2 separate regions of the Homo sapiens genome follow, and region 1 is linked to region 2. A link means that fine-mapping ties the variant in region 2 to the expression of a gene that starts in the linked region. Tissue or cell type: lung. Region 2 holds a variant in brackets; the other region holds the start of a gene. All regions are shown on one strand. Distances are between the middles of the regions.

Region 1 (8,097 bases), 84 kb before region 2:
TGTTTGTGGATAGAAATAATACAATAAAGATATTATTTTGGCCAGGCGCAGTGACTCATGCCTGTAATCCCACCACTTTGGGAGGCAGAAGCGGGTGGATCATTTGAGGTCAGGAGTTTGAGACTAGCCTGACCAACATGGTGAAACCTCAATCTCTACCAAAACTACAAAATTAGCTGGGTATGGTGGCACATGCCTGTGATCCAAGCTACTTGGGAGGCTGAGGTAGGAGAATCACTTGAACCCTGGAGGTGGAGGTTGCAGTGAGCTGAGATCGCGCCATTGCACTCCAGCCTGGGCAACAAGAATGAAACTCCATCTCAAAAAAAAAAAAAAAAAAAAAAAGATGTTATTCCTTCCCAAATTGACTTACAGATTTAATGTAATTCAATTGAAATCCCAATGGCGCTATCAGAGAAATTTGACAAGTCAAATTTAAAATTTATATGAAAAAGTGAAAATTCAAGAATAGTCAAGATACTCTGTAGTAATTAGTGTGGTGTTAGAGAAGTGAAATCTAAATGGAGCCTTGAAAGTAGATAACAACCCTAGGAGTAGACTGAAGCTGGAGCCGGCACTGAAGGTTCCTTCCTGTGCCAGGCTTAACCACTTCAGTTTTAGAGGCTGGGAGGTTGAGGGATTTGTGGCCTGGGGGGCCCAAGTGTTTGGGATGAGGGTAGTAAGGAGGCTTAGAGTGGTAACTGTTATACTAACAGTAATGGAAATACTGCACTATGGTTTGGTATTTTAATAACAGGTACAAAGCCATAGTTGTGTACTGTTTGCAATTAGCCATGCAACTTGACATATAACAGAAGTGAATTTTGGGAAAGGATGGACTTTTCAATAACAGATGCTGGAAAATTATACATACGGGAAATACATATACATACATATGGTTATACATATGGAAAAAAGTGAAATAGGATCCTTATACCATACATAGAAATAAATTTTTAGATGGATGACAGTAAATTAAAAGTGAAAGGTAATACTTTCAGAGTTTCTGAATAAAATTGCAGCAGACATGTTGGCAGTCTGTTCTGGTCTGAATGTCTCCCAAAATCAATGTGTTGAAACTTAATTAACAATGTGATAGCATTAAGAGGTAGGGCCTTAGCAGGTAATTAAGTCATGAGGACTCATGAATGGGATTAGTGATTTTATAAAAGGGCTGGAGGGAACTAGCTAGGCCTCTTTTGTCCTTCCGCTATTATGCCATGTGAGGACACGGCAACAAGGTGCCATCTTGAAAGCAGAGAGCAGCCCTCACCAGGCACGGAATCTGCCAGCACCTTGATCTTAGATTTCCCAGCCTCCCAGAACTGTGAGAAATAAATTTCTGTTGTTTGTAAGCTACCTATTCTATGGTATTTTGTTATAGCAGCAGAAATGAGCTAATACGTGGTCCAACAAAGACGTGTGCACCTCTTCCAGCGATTGAAACTATTGTTGGGGAGAGGTTGCCTAATTAGTGATGACGTTTCTCAGCCACCTTTGCACCTGAATGGGTCCATGTGACTGAGTTCTGGCCAATGGAATGTGGACTGAAATGGTGTATAACAGTGCTTCTCAAATTATCTGTTGTAATGAACCATTTCCCAAATGGTTCCCCCACTCTATCATGGGGGAAATAATGCATTTTGGCTCACTGCAACCTCTGCCTCCCAGGTTCAAGTGGTTCTCCTGCCCCAGCCTCCCAAGTAGCTGGGATTACAGGCACACGCCACTACGCCTAGCTAATTTTTGTGTTTTTATTAGAGACGGGGTTTCACTATTTTGGTCACGCTGGTCTCGAACTCTTGACCTGGTGATCCACCCACCTCAGCCTCCCAAATTGCTGGGATTACAGGCGTGAGCCACTGCGCCCAGCCAGTTGCAATACCATTTTCATAAAACTCAAAACCAACCACAACTAAAAAATATACCGTTTAAATATACATACATATGTGATAAAATATATACATGAGAAAGAGAAACAAAATTCAAGGTAGTTATTTATTTATTTTTTGAGATTCGGTCTCACTCCGTAGCCCAGGATGGAGTGCAGTGGCACGATCTCGGCTCACCACTGCAACCTCTGTCTCCTGTAACCACCATCTCCCAGGCTCAAATGATCCTCCCACCTCAGCCTCCCGAGTAGCTGGGACTACAGGTGTGCACCACCATGCCCGGCTAATTTTCACCATGTTTCCCAGGCTGGTCTCCAACTCTTGTGCTTAAGCAATCCTCTTGCTTTTGTCTCCCAAAGTGTTGGGATTTCAGGCGTGAGCCACCGTGCCCAACCAGTAGCTGTGATTAAAGTAGGGTACAGTCAAAGGAATAGGTCAGAGGAGGAAATCGCAGATTGATGTGAAGGCGTTGGTAATGTTCTGGTTCCTACACAGGTGAAAGGTGTACAGGTGTTTAACTGCTATGCTTTTTATCTCACACATCGCATAAATTTTTCTGTGACATAAAATATTACATAACATTTAAAAAACAGGTCAAGAGGGCAGGGTGCAGTGGCTCACGTCTGTAATCCCAACACTTTGGGAGGCCGAGGGGAGCGGATCACCTGAGGTTAGCAGTTCGAGACCAGCCTGGCCAACATGGTGAAACCCTGTCTCTACTAAAAATACAAACAAAACAAAACAAAACAAAATCCGGTTGGAGTGGTGCATGCCTGTAATCCCAGCTACTCGGGAGGCTGAGGCAGGAGAATCGCTTGAACTCGGGAGGCGGAAGTTGCAGTGAACCGAGACCGCGCCACTGAACTCCGGCCTGGGCAACAAGAGCGAAACTCCGTCTCAAAACAAAAAACAAACAAATCCAAACAAACAAACAAACAAACAAAAACAGGTCAAGGATCAGAAAAGTAAAGTGAGTTGACACTCCATTTACACACAGAAAGCCCAATGTTTTTCTATTATATCAGGATACCTCTTCTAAAGAATGATAGCTTACCTTTCAATCAGAGAAATGATCTAAAGTTCAAAATGTTACTCCATAGCTAGCTCCTGGAGGAAGGAAGCTAGGTGGCAGCGTGTACACAAAAAGGCAATTCATCCAAATAATAATATAACAAGAATATAACAAGTAGGTATTTTCTGCTAAGTGCTATGTAGCACAGGGGTGAATGCGTGGCAGGGCAGGAGGAGGGCTGTTTACAAGAGGGTATGAAATGCAGCTCTTCTTTTCAAGAGTGGTTGCAGAATGCCAGGGCTACAAAGAGAGGGCCGCACATTAAGCATCGTATTATGTGGGTACAGAGTATTAGGGTTCTCGATGACCAGAAGGAGAATGAGTGCAGTTTGTTTCCTAGCAAGCCTTCTTTAGCTTCTCTTCCCAAGTGGGAGTGGGGTTGGGGTTGGGACTGTTCTTTCCTAGCTCAAAAGTTCACTTATGTCACACTAGGGTCAGTTTAAAGGAGAGTGCTAGTAAGGGTAAAGTCAAGTTACATAACCTAGCGGAAAATGAAGACCTAAAACCGCTCGTGAGCAAACACAACACTTTAGACGTAAACCTCTTCCAAAGAAGGGTGGATCTCAGCACTCTGGGTGAAAGCAATCTCAGCCAGTAAAACATCAGAACGCTTTCACGCACGCGCAGTAAGCACACGACCGGTGGCAAGAGCCCGGATAAAGGCGGAGCTAAAGGTGCCGGATAATGCATCACGGAGCGCGTGTGCGCACGCCGTAGGGGGCGGGCCGTTCGGGCTTGGTTTCCTGGGCGACCACCGCTGGCTAGTCCGTTAGAGGCGTGCGGGCTTCGGAGGCGTGCGGGCTTCGGGTGCCATGGGGACTCCTCCCGGCCTGCAGACCGACTGCGAGGCGCTGCTCAGCCGCTTCCAGGAGACGGACAGTGTACGCTTCGAGGACTTCACGGAGCTCTGGAGAAACATGAAGTTCGGGACTATCTTCTGGTGGGTGTTTCTTGTCCACCACCCGCCTCTCCCTGCCCGCAGGTGGTGTAGAAAGTTGCCTCCTTCCCGGCGATATTGCACTTGTGAAGGGCTGAGAAGAGCGGCAGTCACCGAAGGTTGCCTCCATGACTCCTGGACCTTCCCCTGTGCTCAGGCAACGCGCTTTCCCTGCTCTATTTCATTGTGCCCTGATGGTTGTTGCGGCCTCCTCCCAAATATGCGTCTCTGCCTGGCCTCCCTTCTAAACTCCTCTCTCCCATCTCCACCCTGAGCCAGGCCACTATCATTTGCCCTTCCCCAGTCTTGTTCTAGGACCTGATGTTTAAAAACACACAAGCAAAGACAAAACCCTTCAAGATTGAATTAATTTTTCCTCCAACAACCAAAGTTGTCTTTTTTTTTTTTTTTTTTTTTTTTTTTGAGACGGAGTCTCCTTTTGTCGCCCAGGCTGGAGTGCAATGGCGCGTTCGCGGCTCAGTGCAACCCTTCGCCTCTCAGGTTCAAGTGATTCTCTTGCCTCAACCTCCGGAGTAGCTGGGATTACAGGTGCCCGGCACCACGCCCGGTTAATTTTTTGTATTTTTAGTAGAGACGGGGTTTTACTATGTTGGCCAGACTGGCCTCGAACTCCTGATCTCGTGACCCGCCCGCCTCGGCCTCCCAAAGCGCTAGGATTACAGGAGTGAGCCACCGCGCCCGGCCCAAAAGTTGTTTTTCAAAAGTGCAAATTTGATTATGTCACTCCCCGACTTATTACTCTGTAGTGGTGCCCATTGCCTTTGGGATAACGCTTGAATTCTCTGACTTGCCAAGACCATTCCTCACTGGCCTTTGCCTATCTCTCCAGCTTCGCCTGCCAGTCCCCTCCATGCACTCACTTTCTTGCTCCAGCAGCTGCTTTTTTTTTTTTTTTTTTTTCTTTGGGCCCTCTACAGGCTTTTCCTAATCCTGGAGTTTCCACCGCAACTCTCTTGTTTTGTCCACCTTATTCTTCACTCAGGGTTAAGCTCAAATGACATCCTCGGGGGAAGTCTTTTTTGCTCTTCTAGACTGAGTACGCTGTTCATGTTTTTTCCCCGCATAGCACCCTGTTTTTATTTTATGTCACCGCTTTCCACATTTTGTTGTAATGGTATAGTTGAAAAGGCAGTGTGGGATTGTTAAGGGCATAGGTTATGGAACCCAATTGGCTGCATTTGATTGCAGGGTCCGCTATGACTTGGGGCAAGTTACTTGAGTTTCCATATCTGTAAAATAGAGGCAATGATAAACCTCATAGTAGTTGTGAAGATTAAATGAGCTGATATATCAGAAATACATTCTAAGTGCTCAATAAATGTTCATTATTATTATTTTTTTTTCTTGAGACATAGTCTTGCTCTGTCACCCAGGCTGGAGTGTAATGGTGCGATCTCCTATCACTGCAACCTCCACCTCCCGGGTTCAAGAGATTCTCCTGCCTCAGCCTCCCGAGTAGCTGGGACTACGGCTTGTGCCACCAAGCCTGGCTAATTTTTGTATTTTTAGTAGAGACGGGATTTCACCATGTTGGCCAGGCTGGTCAAATGTTCATTATTACTACCGTTTTAAAATTTTCCTTTGACTAGACTGACCTCTGTGAGGACAGTGACTGGATGAATCTATTTTTATTACCATAGTACATATAATATTAAAAAGGCGAAATAACTGATTTTCTGAATGAGTTAAACCTTATGATTAAAACTTTTTCTGAACAAAATGTAAAAACTCATTTTCTCTCTGTCAGTGTAAGCAAATTACCTTTGTAGTTTTTTAAATTGCAAGGAATGGAGGATGAAGAGCTGTTTGTTGTACAGTTAATAAAAGGAGAGAGACTTTTTTTTTTAAATGGCTACTACATGCCATTTATTTATAGCTTTATTTATTGCATAAGACAGTTATAAAAAGCAGGTATAATTATCCTTGTTTTATAGATGAGGAAATTAAGGCTTAAAGAGGTTAAGTAATTTCTCCACCATTACAAAGATAGTGGATTGTAGAGCAGATGTTGGAAACTATGTATCTGCCTGTTTCTAAAATCCGTTAATATTCCACTGTACCACTTCTTGGGGGGAAAAATGCATTTAAGGAAAAAGCTAAAAATGTAACATTTACATTTTCTAGTAGGGAGAACCTAAAATGATAAAAGAAGCAGGAATCACTAGAGTGGTGGATTTTCTTGAGAAATTACTTTGGTTACCGTAACTAGAGTAGGCATTTTGTATTCTTTTCCTATATTTATTATTTGAAGACCCAAAATGTCCTCCTACTACCCCCTTCCCTTCCACCCCTGCATTGTAATCAGATATAATAGAGCCCGTGTTTATGGCTGCAGGGCAAATGTCTTTATTGTTTGTTGCTGGTTTTAAAGTAAAAGTTCTACATATTTATATTTGTATAGCGTATTAGTCACTCGCATCAACACTTTGAGACATTTATTTTAGCTAATGTTTTATTTAAAATCTGGCATTTTTTATCTACTAATTTCAGGTCTTACATAGAAACCTATAATATGCACAAATGTGGCTTCATTGTTTTATCCAAAGTGGTAAGAAGACTGTTACATTGACTTTTTTAAGGCCTTGTTTTTTAAAATTTTTTGTTAACTTAGCACAGCAGAACAGTTTCAGATAGTTTATTCATTATGCTGTTTATATCCACAGAAAATATATGTGAACCTCGAAAATTTGAGACACGTCTCAGTTAATTTAGAAAGGTTATTTTGCCAAGGTTGAGGACGCACCCGTGACACAGCCTCAGGAAGTCGTGTTGACATGCGCCCAAGGTGGTCAGGGCACAGCTTGGTTTTGTACATTTAGGGAGACATGAGACATCAATCAATATATGCAAGAAGTACGTTGGTTCGTTCTGGAAAGGCGGGACAACTTGAAGCAAAGGCAGGAAGACTGGAAGTGGGGAGGGAGCTTTCAGGTCACAGATTGGTGATACACAAATGCTTGCGTTCTTTTGAGTTTCTGATTAGCTTTTCCAAAGGAGGCAAATCAGATATGCATCTATCTCAGTGAGCCGAGAAGTCACTTTGAATAGAATGGGAGAGGTTTGCCCTAAGCAGTTTCCAGCTTGAGTTTTCCTTAGTGATCTTGGGTGCCCAAGATACTTTCCTTTCATGTACATTTCCTATGTTATTTCATTGATTGATTGCCAACAAAGCCTTGTTGCTCTCTTGGATGTTTGGACAAAGCTTTTGGTTGTATGCTGGAGTATGCTCTTCTCCCTTCCTCCTCCTTTCTTCTGATGAGCTTGCAGTGCTCTGGACAATTAGGAGTGCGGGTTACTTTGTGCTGTTTCTCTATCTTTTTCGCCTCGGCTTCGCAAGGACAGAGGAGATTTAGTGCAAATCCCTGAGAGTATTGGAGAAAATGTTCGTTAGGTAAAAAGTAAAGTAGAGGTTCTGCTTCAAAGAGTTTCCTCCCCATCTAATTAAGACTAAATAGTAACTTATCTTAGAAGCAAAATTTATTCAAAGACCTATGCTAACATTCTTAAATATCTGCTAGCTGTAATAAAGAAATCAGTGTATTTTATGTTCTTAGCTCCCACAATTTAGCCTAAATATTTGCCCTGGCGTGCTTATACTGGTCCAAGCAAGCATTAAGTCATAGCCTGTTCTTCTTCCTTATTTAAAAGTGTTTTTACCTTTCTCAGCATTCCACAAGTTACTTCAAGTTCTAAGTTGCTAGTCAATGAAGACAGATACAGAATGTGAAGTCCCGTTCCAGCCAATAGAAACCGGACACAGCAGTAAAGTAGATGTGTCAAGTTATAAATGACCCTGTCTCCTTTGTTCAGTGTAGCAAAACTGCTGGCGACTGTACCCTTTTGTGCAGAAAGTAAAAAAATGGCCTTGCTGAAGAAATAAAATTTACGTTCAAGTGATACTTCTTTATAGCACCAAAGAACAAGCATTTTTGGCAATTGTATATTAAAATGCACATAGTTCTGTAACATAACCATGATTATTTTAACATTATGGGTTTTAAATATTTAACCAATAGTAATTTGAAACCCCTTCCTTCTTGCTCTTCAATTTGGCAAGTAAAGTTGATGCTTTTGGAAGCTGCGTCATGTTTACCTAGTAGTTGCCTTTGCCTTGGTGTAAAATTATCTCTTTGTGCTTGAATCATGAAAGAATCAGGTATGGAATCCTCATCAAA
Region 2 (8,108 bases):
TTCTCACTCATAGGTGGGAATTGAACAATGAGAACACATGGACACAGGAAGGGGAACATCACACACCGGGGACTGTTAGGGGGTGGGGGGAGCGGGGAGGGATAGCATTAGGAGATATACCTAATGCTAAATGACGAGTTAATGGGTGCAGCACACCAACATGGCACATGTATACATATGTAACAAACCTGCACATTGTGCACATGTACCCTAAAACTTAAAGTATAATAATAATAATTAAAGAAAAATTTAAAAAAGTATCACATTTTCTTTATCCACGCATCTGTGATGGACACTTAGGTTGCTTCCAAATTGTGGATATTATGAACAGTGCTGCTACAAACATGGGAGTGTAGATTTCTCTTTCATGTACTGATATCTTTTTTTTTAAGGTATATACCCAGCAGTGGGATTGCTAGATCATATGGTAGCTCCATTTTTAGTTTTTTTTGGAACCTCCCAACTGTTCTTCGTAGTTATTGTACTAATTTACAATCCCAGCCAACAGTGTTCCCTTTGCTCCACATCCTTGCCAGCATTTATGATTCCCTGCCTTTTGAATGAAAGCCATTTTAACTGGAATGAGGTGATATCTCACTGTAGTTTTGATTTGCATTTCTCTGATGATCAATGATGTTGAACACCTTTCCATAGAGTTATTTCTTAACTTTGTTGATTGTTTCCTTTGCTGTACAGAAGCTTTTTAACTTGATGCAATCCCATTTATCCATTTTTGCTTTGGTTGCCAGTGCCTGTGGGGTATTACTGAATAAATTTTTGCCCAGGCCAATGTCCTGAAATGTTTCCCTGATGTTTTCTTGTAGTAGTTTCATAGTTTGAGGTTTTAGATTTAAGTCTTTAATCTATTTTGATTAGATTTTTGTAAAAGGCAAGAGATAGGGATCTAGTTTCATTCTTCTGCATATGGATTTCCAGTTTTCCCACCACCATTTATTGAAGAGACTATCTTTTCCTCAGTGTATGCTCTTGGCACCTTTGTCCAAAATGAGTTCACAATAAGTGTGTGGATTGTTTCTGGGTTCTCTATTCTGTTCCACTGGTGTATGCATCTGCTCTTATGCCAGTATCATGGTGTTTTGGTTAGTGCAGCTCTGTAGCATAATTTGAAGTCAGATAATGTGATTCTTCCAGTTTTGCTCTTTTTGCTTAGGATCATTTTGGCTATTCTGGGTCTTTTGAGGTTCCATATAAATTTTAGGATTTTTTTCTATATATGTGAAGAATGTCATTGGTATTTTGATAGGGATTGCACTGAATTTGTAGATTGCTTTGGGTAGTATGAACATTTTAGCAATGTTGATTTTTCCAATCCACGAATATGAAATATCTTTCCATTTTTTGGTGCCTTCTTCAATTTAGTTCATTAGTGCTTTGTAGTTTTCATTATAGAGATCTTTTCCTTCTTTAATTCCTGGATATTTAATTTTATGTGTGGCTATTATAAATGGTATTACTTTTTTGATTTTTCAGATTGTTTACTGTTGTCATGTAGAAATGCTGATTTTTGTATGTTGATTTTGTATCCTGCAACTTTATAGAATTTATCAGTTCTAATAGTTTTTTTTTGGTGGAATCTTTAGGTTTTCCAAATATAAGATCATATCATCCACAAATAAGGATAATTTGACTTCTTCCTTTCCAATTTGGATGCCCTTTATTTCTTTCTCTTGTCTGATTGCTCTAGCTAGGACTTCCAGTATTATGTCAAATAACAGTGGTGAAAGTGGGCATTCTCATTGTGTTCCAAATCTTACAGGAAAGGCTTTAAGTTTTTCCTCATTTAGTAGGATACTAGCTATGGGTCTGTTATATATGGCTTTTATTATGTTGAGGTATGTTCCTCTATACCCATTTTTTTAGAGTTTTTATCATGAAGGGATGTTGAATTTTATTAAATGCTTTTTCAGCATCAATTGAAATGATCATATAGTTTTTGTTTTTCCTTCTCTTGATATGATATACCACACTGACTGATTTGCATATGTTGAACCATCCTTGCATCCCAGGAATAAATCCCACTTGGTTATAATGAATGATCTTTTTAATGTATTGTTGAATTCCATTTGGTAATATTTTGTTGAGGACCTTTGCATCAATATTCATCAGAGATATTGGGCTACAGTTTTCTGTTTTTAATATGTCTTTGTCTGGTTTTGGTATCAGGCAATTCTGGCATTATAGAATGAATTTGGAAGGATTCTGTCCTCTATTTTTTGGAATAGTTTGAGAGTTTGAGTAGGATTGGTATTGGTTCTCCTTTAAATGTTTGGTAGAATACAGCAGTGAAGCCATTGAGTTGCAAGCTTTTCTTTACTAGAAGACTTTTTTTTTTTTTTTTTTTTTTTTTTGAGATAGAGTCTCACACTGTCACCCCAGCTGGAGTGCAGTGGCATGATCTCAGCTCACTGCAACCTCTACCTCCTGGGTTCAAGTGATTCTCTGGCCTCAGGCTCCCAAGTAGCTGGGATTACAGGCATCTGCCACCATGCCCAGCTAATTTTTTGTATTTTTAGTAGAGACGGGGCTTCACCATGTTGACCAGGCTGGTCTTGAACTCCTGACCTCGTGATTCGCCTGCCTCAGCCTCCCAAAGTGCTGGGATTACAGGCGTGAGCCACTGTGCCCAGCCTGGGAGACTTTTTATTATGGCTTCAATCTTGTTACTTGTCTGTTCAGGTTTTGGATTTCTTCATGGTTCAATCTTGGTAGGTTGTATGTGTCTAGAAATTTATCAATTTCTTCTAGATGTTTCAATTTATTGGCATATAGTTGCTCATAGCAGCCACTAATGATCCTTTGAATTTCTGCAGTATCAGTTGTAATGTCTTCTTTTCGTGTCTGATTTTATTTATTTGGATCTTCTCTCTTTTTTCTTAGTCTGGCTAAAGGTTTCTGAATTTTGTTTAGCTTTTCAAAAAACCAACTTTTTGTTTCATTGATATTTTGTATTCTTCATTTCAAATTTATTTCCGTTCTGATCTTTATTTCTTTTCTTCTACTAATTTTGGGTTTGGCTTGCTCTTGTTCTTTAAAATGCATTATTAGGTTGTTTATTTGAAATTTTTCTTGTTTTTTGATGTAGGCACTTATAGCTATAAACTTCCCTCTTAGTATTGTTTTTGCTGTGTCTCACAGGTTTTGGTATGGGACTTATGTGTTTCCATTATCATTTGTTTCAAGAAAATTTTCAATTTCCTTCTTAATTTCTCC[G/A]TAGACCCATTGGTCATTCAGGAGCATATTGTTTAATTTCCATGTATTTGTATCGTTTCCAAATTCCTCTAGTTTTATTCCATTGTGGTAAGAGAAGATGCTTGATATTATCTCAGTTTTTTGAATGTTTTAAGACTTGTTTTTTGACCTAACATATGGTCTATTCATGTGCTGGGGAAAAGAATGTGTATTCTGCAGCTGTTGGATGAAATGTTCTGTAAATATACATTAGGTCCATTTGGTCTATAGTGCAGATTAAATCTGATGTTTCTTTATTGATTTTCTGTCTGGAAGATCTGTCCAATATTGAAAGTGGGGTGTTGAAGTAGAGCACTCCACTTATTATTAGCTATTATTGTACTGGGGCCTGTCTCTTTAGCTCTCATATTTGCTTTATATATCTGGGTTCTCTAGTGTTGGGTGCATATGTATTTAAAGTTGTTATATCCTCCTGCTGAATCGACCCCTTTATCATTATATGGTGACCTTCTTTGTCTCCTCTTACAGTTTTTGTCTTGAAATCTATTTTGTCTGATATAAGTATAGTGATTCCTGCTCTTTTTCAGTTTTCATTGGCATGGAATATCTTTTTCCATCCCTTTATTTTCAGTCCATGTGCATCTTTATAGATGAATAGTGTTTCTTGTAGGCAACAGATCACTGGGTCTTGCTTTTTCATCCATTCTGCCAGCCTGCATCTTTTGATTGGAGAGTTTAGTCCATTTGCATTCAGTGTTACCATTGTTAAGAACTTACTCCTGCCATTTTGTCATTTTCTTGTTGTTTTATGGTCTTCTCTTCCTTCTTTCATTCCTTCCTGCCTTCCTTTTAGTGAAGGTAATTTTTTTCTGGTGATATGATTTAGTTTCTTGCATTTTATCTTTTGTGTATCTGTTGTATGTTTTTTTATTGGAAGTTACCATGAGGCTTGCAAATACTATCTTATAACCCATTATTTTAAGCAGAAAACAACACTATTTGCATAAACAAACAAGCAAAAAGAAAACTGATAAAGATTCTATGCCTTTACTCTGTCTTCCTGTTTTTAAACTTTTTGTTGCTTCTCTTTATATCTTACTGTACTGTCTACATTTTGAAAAGTTGTTGTTATTATTTTTGGTCAGTTCATCATTTAATCTTTCTACTTAAGACTAGTTTACACACCACAGTTAGAATGTTATGTATGTTTCTCCTTGTACTTACTGTTACCAGTGAGTTTTACACCTTCAGATGATTTCTTATTGTTCATTAACATCCTTTTCTTCCTAATTGAAGTACTTCCTTTAGCATTTCTTGTTGGACAGGTCTGGTGTTATTGAAATCTTTCAGCTTTCGTTTGTCTGGGAAAGTCTTTATTTTTCCTTTATCTTTGAAGGATATTTTTGCTAGATATACTATTCTATGGTAAAAGTCTTTTTTTCCCCAGCACTTTAAATATGTCATGCCATTCTCTCCTGACCTGTATGGTTTTCACTGAAAAGCCTGCTGCCTGATGTATTGGAGCCCCATTGTATTTTATGTTAGTTGTTTCTTTTCTCTTGCTGCTTTTAGGCTCTTTTCTTTATCTTTGACCTTTGAGAGTTTGATTATTAAATACCTTGAGGTAGTCCTCTTTGGGTTAAATCTGCTTGGTGTTCTATAACCTTCTTGTACTTGAATATTCATATCTTTCTCTAGGTTTGGGAAGTTCTCTGTTATTACTCCTTTGAATAAACTTTCTACCCTTGTATCTCTCTTTCCATCTCCTCTTTATGGCCAATAACTCTGCCTTTTAAAGACTATTTTCTAGATATTTTAGATGTGCTTCCTTGTTTTCTATTATTTTTTCTTTTATCTCCTCTTACTGTATTTTCAAATAGCCTGTCTTCAAGCTGCCTAATTCTTTCTTCTCTTGATTAATTCTGCTGTTAAGAGACTCTAATGCATTCTTCAGTATGTCAATTGTAGTTTTTCAACTCCAGAATTTCTGCTTGTTTCTTTTTAATTATTTCAATCTCTTTGTTACATTTATCTGATAGGATTCTGAATTCTTCGTGTTATCTTGAATTTCATCGAGTTTCCTCAAAACAGCTATTGGATTTTCTGTCTGAAAGGTTACATATTTCTGTCTCTCTCAGATTGACCCCTGAGGGCTTATTTAGTTTGTTTGGTGAGGTCATGTTTTCCTGTATGGTCTTCATGCTTGTGGATGTTTGTCTGTGTCTGGACATTGAAGAATTAGGTATTTATTGTAGTCTTCACTCTCTGGGCTTTTTTGTATTCATTCTTCTTGGGAAAGCTTTCCAGGTATTTGAAGGGATTTGGGTGTTGTGATCTAAGCGTTTGGTCACTGAAGCCGTATCTGCATTAGGACACATCCCATGCCCAGTAATAATGCTGTGGCTCTTGCAGACTTAGGTGCCACCTTGGTGGTCTTGGATAAAATCTGGAAGAATAATCTGGATTACCAGGCAGAGACTCTTGCTCTCTTTCCTTACTTTCTCCAAAACAAAAGGAGTCTCTCTCTCTCTCTCTGTGCTGAGCAGTCTGGAAGTGGAGGACACATGACATAAGCACCCCTGTGGCCACCACCATTGGGACTCTGATGGTCAGACCTGGAACCAGCACAACACTGGGCCTCATTCAAGGCCCACTGTAGCCGCTACCTGGGTACTGCCTATGTTTGCTCAAGAACCTTGGGCTCTGTGATCAGCAGGTAGTGAAACCAGCTAAACTTGTGTCCTTCTCTTCAGTGCGCTGAGTTTCCCTGAGCCATGGGAAGGTCCAGACATGTTCTCTGGGAGACAGAGCCTGGAGTCAGAAATCTACCTGGTACTTTATTCTACTGTGGCAGAGCTGGCACCTAAACCACAGGGGCCCACTTAGGGCTTGACCCTTTTGTGACAGAGCTGGTATCTAAGCTGCAAGACAAGCCCCCTTTACCTTTCCCTCTGCTTTTATCAAGCAGAAGGAGTCTCTCCTTGTAGCTACCACAGGTGGCAATGTGCTGGATCAAACCTGAAGCCAGCATGTCTCAGAGTCATGCAAGGCCCACAGCACATATTACCTGGTTGTTGCTACAAATTTTTCAGGGCCCAAGGGCTTTTTAGTCAATAGGTGATGAATCCTGCCAGGACTGGGTTCTTCCCTTCAAGGCAGCAGGCTCCCTTCTGGCCCAAGCTTGCCTAGAAATGATGACCAGGAACTAGGCCCTAGAATGGGGGGCCTCCGGACTCTGTCTTGTGCCCTATCCTATTGTAACTGAACTTGTATCCAATTTGTAAGACAAAATTGTCTTTACTCTTCTCTCTCCTCTCCTGAGGCAGAAGGAAGGAGTCTTTTTTGGAGCTGTGAGCTGCACTGCCTGGAGTTGGGGGAGGGCTGACTGGCACAAGCACTCTCTTAGTTGCCCCAGCCAGTGTCTCGCTGGGTCATGTGTCCCCCAAAATCCACTGGTTCTGAGCCCAGCACAGCATTAGGATTTGCTTAGGAGTTGCAGTCGTTGTGGCATAGATTGCCTTTCAAATTTATTTAGGACCCCAGAGCACTTTAGCTTGTGGTGGCGAGGCTTGCTGAAATTCAAGTTCTGACTGCTTGGATGGGTGATTTCCCTCTGATTAGGGCTCATCTAAATGCTCCATCCATGGGCACTGGCTGAGTTCTGTCTGGTGTTGCTTTCTGCTGTGATAGGGCAGCACTGAGTTCCAATGCAAAGTCCCACAATCACTATGCTCTCCCTCCCTCAAGTGCACAGATTCTTTACCTCATGTGGCCACTGTCGGGGTGGGAGAGGGGTGGCATTGGCAGTTCAAGACTGTCTTTCCTACCCTCTTTAGTGCCTCTTTCAGTGATATGAAGTTAAAACCAGGTACTCTGATTGGTCACCCGATTTTTCATTCTTATGTAGGTGCTTTTTTGTGTGGATAGTTGTTCCATTTGATGTTCCTGAAGGGAGGATGGTTGGTGGAGGCTTCTATTGGCCATCTTGTGCTGCCTCCACTTCCACAGGTATCTTTTTGATATGATGATTTATTTTTCTCTTGGTAGACATTTCCATATTTTTTTCCATAGATATTGAACTAATTTACATTCCCACCAACAATATGAGTTTTCCCTTTTCTCTGCATCCATTCCAACATCTGTTGTTTTTGACTTTTTAGTAATAGTCATTCTGACTGGTGTAAGATGGTATCTCAGTGTGGTTTTAATTTGCATTTTTTTCTTTTTCTTTTTCTTTTTTTTTTTGAGACGGACTTTTGCTCCTGTCACCCAGGCTGGAGTGCAATGGTGTGATCTCGGCTCACTGCAACCTCTGCCTCCTGGGTTCAAGTGATTCTCCTGCCTTAGCTTCCCTAGTAGCTGGGATTACAGGCACCTGCCACCATGCCTGGCTAATTTTTGTATTTTTAGTAGAGATGGGGTTTCACCATGTTGGCCAGGCTGGTCTCAAACTCCTGACCTTAGATTATCTGCCTACCTTGGCCTCCCAGAGTGCTGGGATTACAGGCATGAGCCACCGTGCCTGGCCTAATTTGCATTTTTCTGATAGTGATGTTGAACTTTTTTTTCATGTGGTTTGTTAGCTGTTTGCATTTCTTCTTTTAAGAAGTGTACATATCATTTGCCTATTTTTAATGGTGTTGGTTGTTCTTAAAATAAAAAACATTTTTATCTAACTTTATTATGTCTACCCAGTAAGTAAATTGTAAACATTTCAAATAATGAGATTCTTTTATGTTTATCCCTTCAGTGCCCTCCACATCAGATGCATTCAACAAAAATCTATTGCTTTGGTTTGGATGAAAATGCCTGTAATCTTTCTATTTGCCCTATTATGTGTTGGTAATCATTAGTGAATCAGAATGTTCTTCAGATTACTTTTGAGGCCAACATTATAT

Evidence for each region. PIP is the estimated chance that this variant, and not a neighbour inherited with it, causes the effect.
Region 1: SNAPC1 starts here. The variant in region 2 is fine-mapped to the expression of SNAPC1 in lung (TOPMed, PIP above 0.99).

What each region holds. Positions count from the first base shown.
Region 1 is chr14:61,758,685-61,766,781 of GRCh38, forward strand. SNAPC1 (small nuclear RNA activating complex polypeptide 1) reads left to right here and starts at 3,736. Exons shown (of 10, transcript NM_003082.4): 1 at 3,736-3,904. The coding sequence starts at 3,777. RefSeq lists enhancers at 1,730-2,474, 2,475-3,218, 3,062-3,151, 3,219-3,962, 3,963-4,706.
Region 2 is chr14:61,842,697-61,850,804 of GRCh38, forward strand. The region is part of intron 1 of SYT16 (synaptotagmin 16); the gene reads left to right. Among named protein-coding and RNA genes, the nearest start is that of SYT16, 34 kb to the left of the region's middle. The variant G/A (reference allele first, on the strand shown) is at 3,232.